2 linked regions of the Homo sapiens genome follow. The protein of the gene in region 1 purifies or fractionates together with the protein of each later gene. This does not show direct contact. Each region holds a gene or a part of one and is shown on either strand. Other genes may lie near its edges.

Region 1 (3,817 bases):
GTGTTACAACGACCAAGCCTATATCTTGATAGACAAGGGACAAGTATCAAGCAAATACCTACAGAGAACATGATCAAGAGTACAGGTCATCAACAAGGCTGACAATATGAAGTGTCAGCAAGTATGTGGAGAAGCTGGACCCCTCAGCTACTGCTGGTGGGAATGTAAAATGGAACAGCCACAGTTTGGCAGTTTCTGAAAATTAAACACATACCTGCCATATGACCCAACAATTCCACTCCTCAGTATCTATTGAAGAGAAATGAAAACGTGTCCACATAAAGACTTATACATGAATGTTCATAGCAGCATTATACATAATAGCCCAAACCCAGAAATAATCCAAATGACCATCAGCTGGGGAATGGACATAAAAATTGTGGTATATCCATAAAATGGAATACTACTCAACAATAACAATGAACGAGTTACAACAACATAGATGAGTCTCCAAAAAAAAACAAATAAATAAAAAATCCAGACACGTAAGATGACCACATATGTATAATTACATTTATGTTAAATTTCTAGAAAAGACAAAACTATAGAGATAGGAAACAGATCAGTGGTTGCCTAGGAGGTTGGATAGGAGTGACTGCACACAGGCACAAGGGAATTCTTTTGGGTGATGGAAATGTCCTAAATATTTCCACTGTGGTGATACTCACAAAATTGTGTACATTACATTGACTGAATTCCGTTGAACCAGAAACTTAAAATAGATGAATTTTATGTCATGTAAATTATACCTCAATAAAGCTGTTAAAAAATAGAGTATAGGTGAGCTACTGGTAGTGAAATAACATCACCACTAGTTTTTAGTCATGGGCACGGCTACATTGTCTTCTTATGAAGCTCTTACTGCATCAGAGAACAAGATGAATTGTGAAATATTATGAATGAATGGAAAACATGATAGTATTTGAGTTACAGAATCTACCAGAGCAGCATATATTACACTGTCTACAGCTGAGACAGGGAAAATGCTCTTGATTCATGTGGAATGACCTAGGCAACACATTTTTTGTTTTAGAATAGTTTGAGGCTTATGGTCTGATATCTTTATGATGAATGTGGTAGATAGTCTTCAAAAATGGCCCCCAATGAACTATGCCTCCCAGAATTTATGCCCTTTTGTAACCTTTCTGCTGGTGTTGTGACTTGCTTTTGACCAATAGAATGTTTCAGAAATGATGCCAAGGGCTTCTGAGATCACAAGAAGTATTGTAGTTTCTGCTTTGGTTTCTTGGGACAAAAACACTGGCAGGGGATTGGGGTAGTCAGGTACTATGGAGGAAGTCTGACTACCTGAGGCTTCCATACTGTGAGGAAGCCCAAGCTAACCACATGAGAGAGAGAGGGAGGGACAGAGGGATGGAGATTGAGTGAGAGTGATGAGTGGCGAGCCCCTAGCTGTTCCAGTTACCCCAGCCCAGGCTTTGCATATTTGAGAGAAGTCATTTTGAACATCCAGCCCAGTTGAGCCTTCAGTTGACTCCAGCCCTTGCTGATGTTTGATGGCAGCCACATGGAAGAGCTCAAATGAGACCTACCCAGTGGGGACCGTGAATCCACAGATTCATGTTTTAAGGCACTACCTTTGGGGTGGTTTGTTACATAGCAGTAAATAGCCCAAAAGGAAGGAGGTCAGGAAAGACTATAGAAATTACATTTGATTTCTTCAATTTGAAATACAATAAATTTAGTAGCTAGACTAAGGCACTTTAATAAAATCATCTTGTTAGCCACTTTTTAAAAAATCTTTGTGTAACACAGACTTTTTCCTTTCTTAATAATAATTTTCAGAGACTGCAGACAGAGTGGCATTGTGACAAAGGTGTTTCACGTAGACTATGAACCACCAAATATAGTCTCTCCTGAAGACAATGTTGAAAATGTTCTCAAAGATTCTTCAAGGCAGGCAAGTAATGAAACTATAATCCATTCAGATTGTCACTGTATTTTGGTTCCTTCTTTCTCAGTGAGCAGATCTTGCCTTTTATTACCTTACCTCTGCTCACAGTCAGGTCCTTATAACTGAAGTCATTATCAACCATTGCAAAGCATCTTTACTGATTTCTCAGCCTTTTGTCAGTCTCCTATCCACCCTGAAGATGAGAGTTCCTGCTGAGCATTGGGGTCCATGCTCCAGTGTCTTCAGTGGCTCTCTCTTACCTACTGAAAAAACCAGAAACCTTTAGCCTTCCATCCAAGTCATCAGTTTCTGCCCTTGGTCAGCTTTTCCTGGTCTGTCAACCCCCTACATATACTCCAACCAAACTGGAGTGTGTTTGCTATGCCCTATCACTGCTATCCTGGCACCCAGGCCTTCTTTTATAAACTGCTTTGAGCATGTGATTACTTTGTTCCTTGTTTATCTTGCCTATGCATTATAAGCTCCAAGGTGGCATGGTTGCCATACTCATTGCCTTGCACAGGAGCAGGCAGGAGAGGGTGGTGAGTGTGTATTTGCTGAATAGATGCATTAAGTAGAAGTCCTCAGTGGGCATAGAATTCTTTTATGTTGAAATCTTTATTCCCAAATATCTGCAAAGCCTCCCCACTGTGAAGAGTCAATTAGATCCATCTGAGAAGGATGTGTGACGCTTCAGGCACTGGGTGTGAGCATCGATAAGAAAGATTCAAGGAGTTAGGCCAGAGGATGGGCTAGCCTACAGTAAGGCGGCCAACCCAGAGGTCTTGGTCACAGGGATGTTGTTGGGATTGACAGAGGAAGTTTATAGGGGTTTCACTTAAGCTTGACCATGAACCTGATGCTAGAGAGGAGGTTGGTAGATGCAGGCATGGGTGGGACTCAAGTGTGATCAAGGCAAGGATCTACACTGGGCAGGGGCCGCCTTCGGGGGCTAAGCCAACATATGTCAGCAAGTGCTTAGGCTTGAATCAGGTGTGAGGGACCAAGTCCATGGAGAAAGTCCAGAGAGAAGAGTGTTTAAGGACTGTGTGTGGGCAGGTGGTGTGCAGAAGTCTGATTTTGGTCTGACTCTACCCTGCCTTTGCCCTCTGGACTTGGTGGTCCCTCTGTTGTTACCCAGACTCCCACAGTTGTAACATCCTGCCTGCATGTGCTGCTCCCTGCCTCCTGCCTTGGCCACTTCACCTGGTGAGGGCTACATCCAGATGTGCTGCCAGCTGAGCAGCCCAGTCCAGATACAAAGCTGCATGTTTCCAGAATAAAGTGAAACAGGGGTCACTTTGTACAAATGACCATAAACTCTTTCAAATAAGAAATGCACACCATGACACTTTCTCTATCATGCAGCTTTAATTCTCACATGGGAATAACCAAGTGATTGATATGCAATCTCTTCATTCCTAGGAATTCAAAAATGGATTTGTTGGATCAAAACTAAAGAAAAAATATAAGAACTCTGAAAATCAACGCAGCTGGAATGTTAACCTTAGAAAGTTTCCAGGTATGATGTGACAGAACAAAGACAAGGTTTTGTATTCTGAACCCACCGAAGAGGTTCATGGCATGTTCGTTGCATGTTTTCTTGTCTGGAGAAGTGTTGGAATAAGAAACACTGGGGCAGGAAAGTATGCTGTACTTTGAATTTTAATGACGTCCTTGCTTACAGCTTAAGATCATGAAGGAGGATCAAGCAGTCCAACCAAGTTAGATTTCTTGACCCACTGCCGGGAGCCATGGGGGCATCTAACCAAACAGAGGAAATGCTGGAGTTGTAGGGTTTGGGGGAAGGGTGGAGTTTGGGTGAAATATAAATGAAAGCAGAGTTTTGATAGTCTCAAAGCGAAGCTGGTCTGGGTGTGAAGGGATCAGCATCAGGTATGG
Region 2 (3,817 bases), on another chromosome or scaffold:
CCCACCTTGGCATCTTCTCCTCCAACAGGGAGGAAGACCTCCAGCCATCTTCTGCAGCCAGCTTTTCTGTCTGATTCAAGAGCCGGGGTGAGGCTGGGGCCATGGAATTGAAGATAGGTCTCTCTGCAGGCAGTGGGTGGGGTCTCAGCAGCTCAGAGCCAGGCCTAAGGGACACCAGGATTGGGTCTGGAAGGGAAGCAGAGCCATGTGAGGACGGGGTGCCCACGGGAAGATGGGCATATGGGGCACCAATGACACAGGCAGGCATGCAGAGACACTCAGAGCCATGCAGACCCATGCAACATGTGTGGGAAATACAGCTACCTGTGGACAGGCCCAAACCCACAGAGCAGGGCTAACAGATACAAATACCCACGTGTGCCACCCTCAGAGTGAAGCTTGGTTTGTAGGAACAGCACGGTGCGTGCACTGAAGCAGCCCCCAAACACTTCAAACTCACATGAGACCTTGCCCTTGCTTTGTAAGGACAGTCCCACCCACACTGCACCCCACCATCTACCAAGTTCATTAGTTCTCTCACCACCTCCAGAAAGCAGGGGAGGCTGGCATCATGGCTACAGATGAGGAAACTGAGGCCCAGGGAGCAAAACCTACTTAAGGTTATCCAAAACTAGGACTCGGCCCTGGTCCGCTGCCCCCCAAGGCAGAGGCTCTTCCAGTACACCAGGAGGCCCGCTCAGCCACTGGGGTGGGGGTGAAGGAAGTTTGTGGGGGTGGAAGGGAGAGGGAGCAGCTGGGGTGACTGCTTCTGCTGGGCTGGCCCCCGTGTTGGCAGGAGCGGGAGAGTGGCTCAGGACAGGCAGAGTGGGCAGAGGGACCTGGGTGGGGGTTGCTGCCTGGAGGGCTTCTTGGGTCAAGAAGAATTGCAAAAGGCCAGGCCCAGTGGCTCGCACCTGTAATCCCAGCACTTCGGGAGGCCGAGGCAGGTGGATCACTTGAGGTCAAGAGTTTGAGACCAGCCTGGCCAACATGGCAAAACCCCCATCTCTACTAAAAATACGAAAAATTAGCTGGGCATGGTGGCACGTGCCTGTAGTCCCAGCTACTCAGGAGGCTGAGGCATGAGAATCACTTGAACCTGGGGGTGGGGTGGAGGTTGCAGTGAGCTGAGATTGTACCACTGCACTCCAGCCTGGGCAACAAAGCGAGACTCTGTCTCAAAAAAAAAAAAAAAAAAAAAAAAAAAAGAATTGCAGAGGTAGGGGTGGGGAACAGGGACAGGGAGTCTGGCTGAGGTGGTCCAGGCACCCCACATAGCCCCAGAGTGTAAAGAAGCTTTCCGTGGGGCAAAGTCCCTTGAGTTGGAGTTTTCTGAGCTCTTGGGTCAAGCCCCCTGACTTTCTGGACCTGTATGTGACCATGCTACCCACTGGGGACTGAAGGTCAAGGGCATGGCTTCTGAGGTCATGAGAGAAGAAAAATCCAGGCCCAACCCCTCTCAATTGCTTGGGGCCACTGGGCACGCCATGTTCCTGTCACATTTGCCTGGGCCTCTTCTCTGCCTTCCTCACCTCGATTCATCCCGCTGAGCCACTCCTGGGCCGTCAGGGAGGGCTGGGCCCCTGCTGTTGGAGGGTATATGTCCTCTTGGTAGGATTCTGACTGCAGGAGAAATCCAGACAGTGAGGAGGGTGGTAGGGTAGGCTGCTCAGATGGGAAAGGCCCTTAGACCTGGGAGTCCAGGCTCTCACCAACCCCTGCTGAATTGAGGAAACTGAGGCCCAGAGAACAAAGGGACTTGCCCGAGGTCACGCAGCAGCTCAAGAACAGAGGTGGACCGAGACCCAGGACTCCTGACGCCCACTGATGTCACACTGGCTGTGAGAAAGGCCGCTCTGTGGCTGCCCCATGAACGTGGGCTCCAGGCTCTGGTGCCCGACAGCCCTGGGTCTGTCTTCTCCAGGACAGGTTCCCCACCTGCCTCCCATGCGGTCCCGACTGCCCTTACCCGCCGGGGCACAATCATGGAGATGGGCTCGATGAGGCTTTTGGTTGTGATCAGCTTGTAGAAGCGGAAGATCTCGCAGGAGGACACGTCGAGTCCTCTCTTTGGCATGACACCTGAAGGCAGACAGGGAGGGCCAAGAGGTTCTGGCTAGGCTGGGGCCACAGTGTTAGGGCCAAAGCCAGGCTGCACACCTGGACCTGAACAGAGACCAGTCTCCTCCCAGAAAACAGCTCAGGGACAAATACCGACACTGGGCTGGGCCCTATGTTGGGAAATGGAGTTGAATTAATCAGACTCTTCACCTTCAAAGATTTAAATTATTTTAGCTGAATTTTTTTCTTTTTGACACAAGGTCTCACTCTGTTGCCCAGGCTGGAGTGCAGTGGCACAATCATAGCTCACCGCAGTCTCACACTCCTGGGCTCAAGCGATCCTCCTGCCTTAGCGTCCCAAGTAGCTGGGACCACAGGTATGCACCTCAATTTTTTTATTTATTTGTAGAGACAGGAGTCTCACTTTGTTGCCCAGGCTAGGCTCGAATTCCTAGGCTCAAGTGATCCTCCAGCTTTGGCCTCCCAAAGTGCTGGATTAGCTGAACTTTTATAGGCAGTTTGCTCTGCTTAAGGTTCCCCATCTCCATCCCCACAGCTCCTGTGACCCAAATGCTCTTAATCAAACCGCTCCAGATTCCTTTTGAGTAGGGTTAGCAGGGTGCATCTTTCTCCAGTCCCTTACTTTTAATCTAGCCATGTCTTTATGTTTAAAGTGGGTTTCTTGTAGATTACAGAAATATAGCTGTGTTTTTAATCCTCAAGCACACTTAGAAAGGAACTGAGGACTGCTTCCTAGAGGCTCTTCTAGGTCAGCCCTTTCCATCTCTGCTCTTGTGGTAACTGCTTAACCTTGACCTAGAACACATCCCTCTCTCCCCTGCTGGGCTCTGCTTCCTCTTTCAGTTCCTCCAATGTTGCCTCCTCTGAGAAGCCTTCCCTGACTTCCTCCTTTGTGCTGTTGCACACGTCAAGTACAGCCCCCACCAAGTCAGAGTGTTGCTATGCTGTCTCTCCTCCCATCTGACTCATCCCTGTCTCCCCAGACCCCGCACTGAAGCCCTGACCCTGATTCTCCCACCTCGGCCTCCCGAAGTGCTGGGATTACAGGCATGAACTTCAGTGTCCCTCACTTACCGATCCCCTTCTGTGGGTTATAGGAGCGGTACTCAGTCAGGTAGCTCAGGTGAGGCTTGTCGGCGCTCACCTCGTAGTAGCGGATGTTGCCATCTCCCTGAGGAGGAGGAGAAGGAAGAGGAGGGTGAGATTCAGAGCTGGAGCTCATCAGCTCATCAGCAACCCAGCCATGCAGCAAAGACCTGGCTTTTTTTGATGATCGGCAAACCCATCTCACTCAAGGGAACACCAGGAAACTGGGGGCCCTGTCATCAAGGCAGGAGGGTGATGAGGGGATATTCATTTTATTTTAGATTTTATCTTATTTTTTTGAGACAGGGTCTCACTTTATTGCCCAGGCTGGAGAGCAGTAGTGCAATCACAGCTCATTGCAACCTCCTGGTCTCAAGCCATCTTCCCGCCTCAGCCTCCCGAGTAGGTGGGACCACAGGTGTGTGCCACCACGCCTGGCTAATTTTTTATTTTTTCATTTTCGTAGACATGGGGTCTCACTATGCTGCCCAGGCTGGCCTTGAACTCCTGGGCTCAAGTGATTCTCCCACCTTGGCCTCCCAAAGTGCTGGAATTATAGGCATGAGCCACTGTGCTGGGCCTGGGCCCTTATTTTAATATTCAATCCTCCCCCACCATGACCCAAAGCCCACCCTTTTTCCTCTAAGAC

What was found.
Region 2: the proteins of DZANK1 (region 1) and CORO2A purify together in Homo sapiens (affinity purification with mass spectrometry; one large-scale study listed by BioGRID and IntAct). This does not show direct contact.

Annotation. Positions count from the first base shown.
Region 1 is NC_000020.11:18,453,351-18,457,167, reverse strand, and holds part of DZANK1 (double zinc ribbon and ankyrin repeat-containing protein 1), read left to right. Parts: intron 1-1,806; coding exon 1,807-1,921; intron 1,922-3,340; coding exon 3,341-3,437; intron 3,438-3,817. UniProt on the Homo sapiens protein: Involved in vesicle transport in photoreceptor cells.
Region 2 is NC_000009.12:98,126,638-98,130,454, forward strand, and holds part of CORO2A (coronin-2A), read right to left. Parts: intron 3,254-3,817; coding exon 3,157-3,253; intron 2,083-3,156; coding exon 1,970-2,082; intron 1,624-1,969; coding exon 1,533-1,623; intron 187-1,532; coding exon 1-186.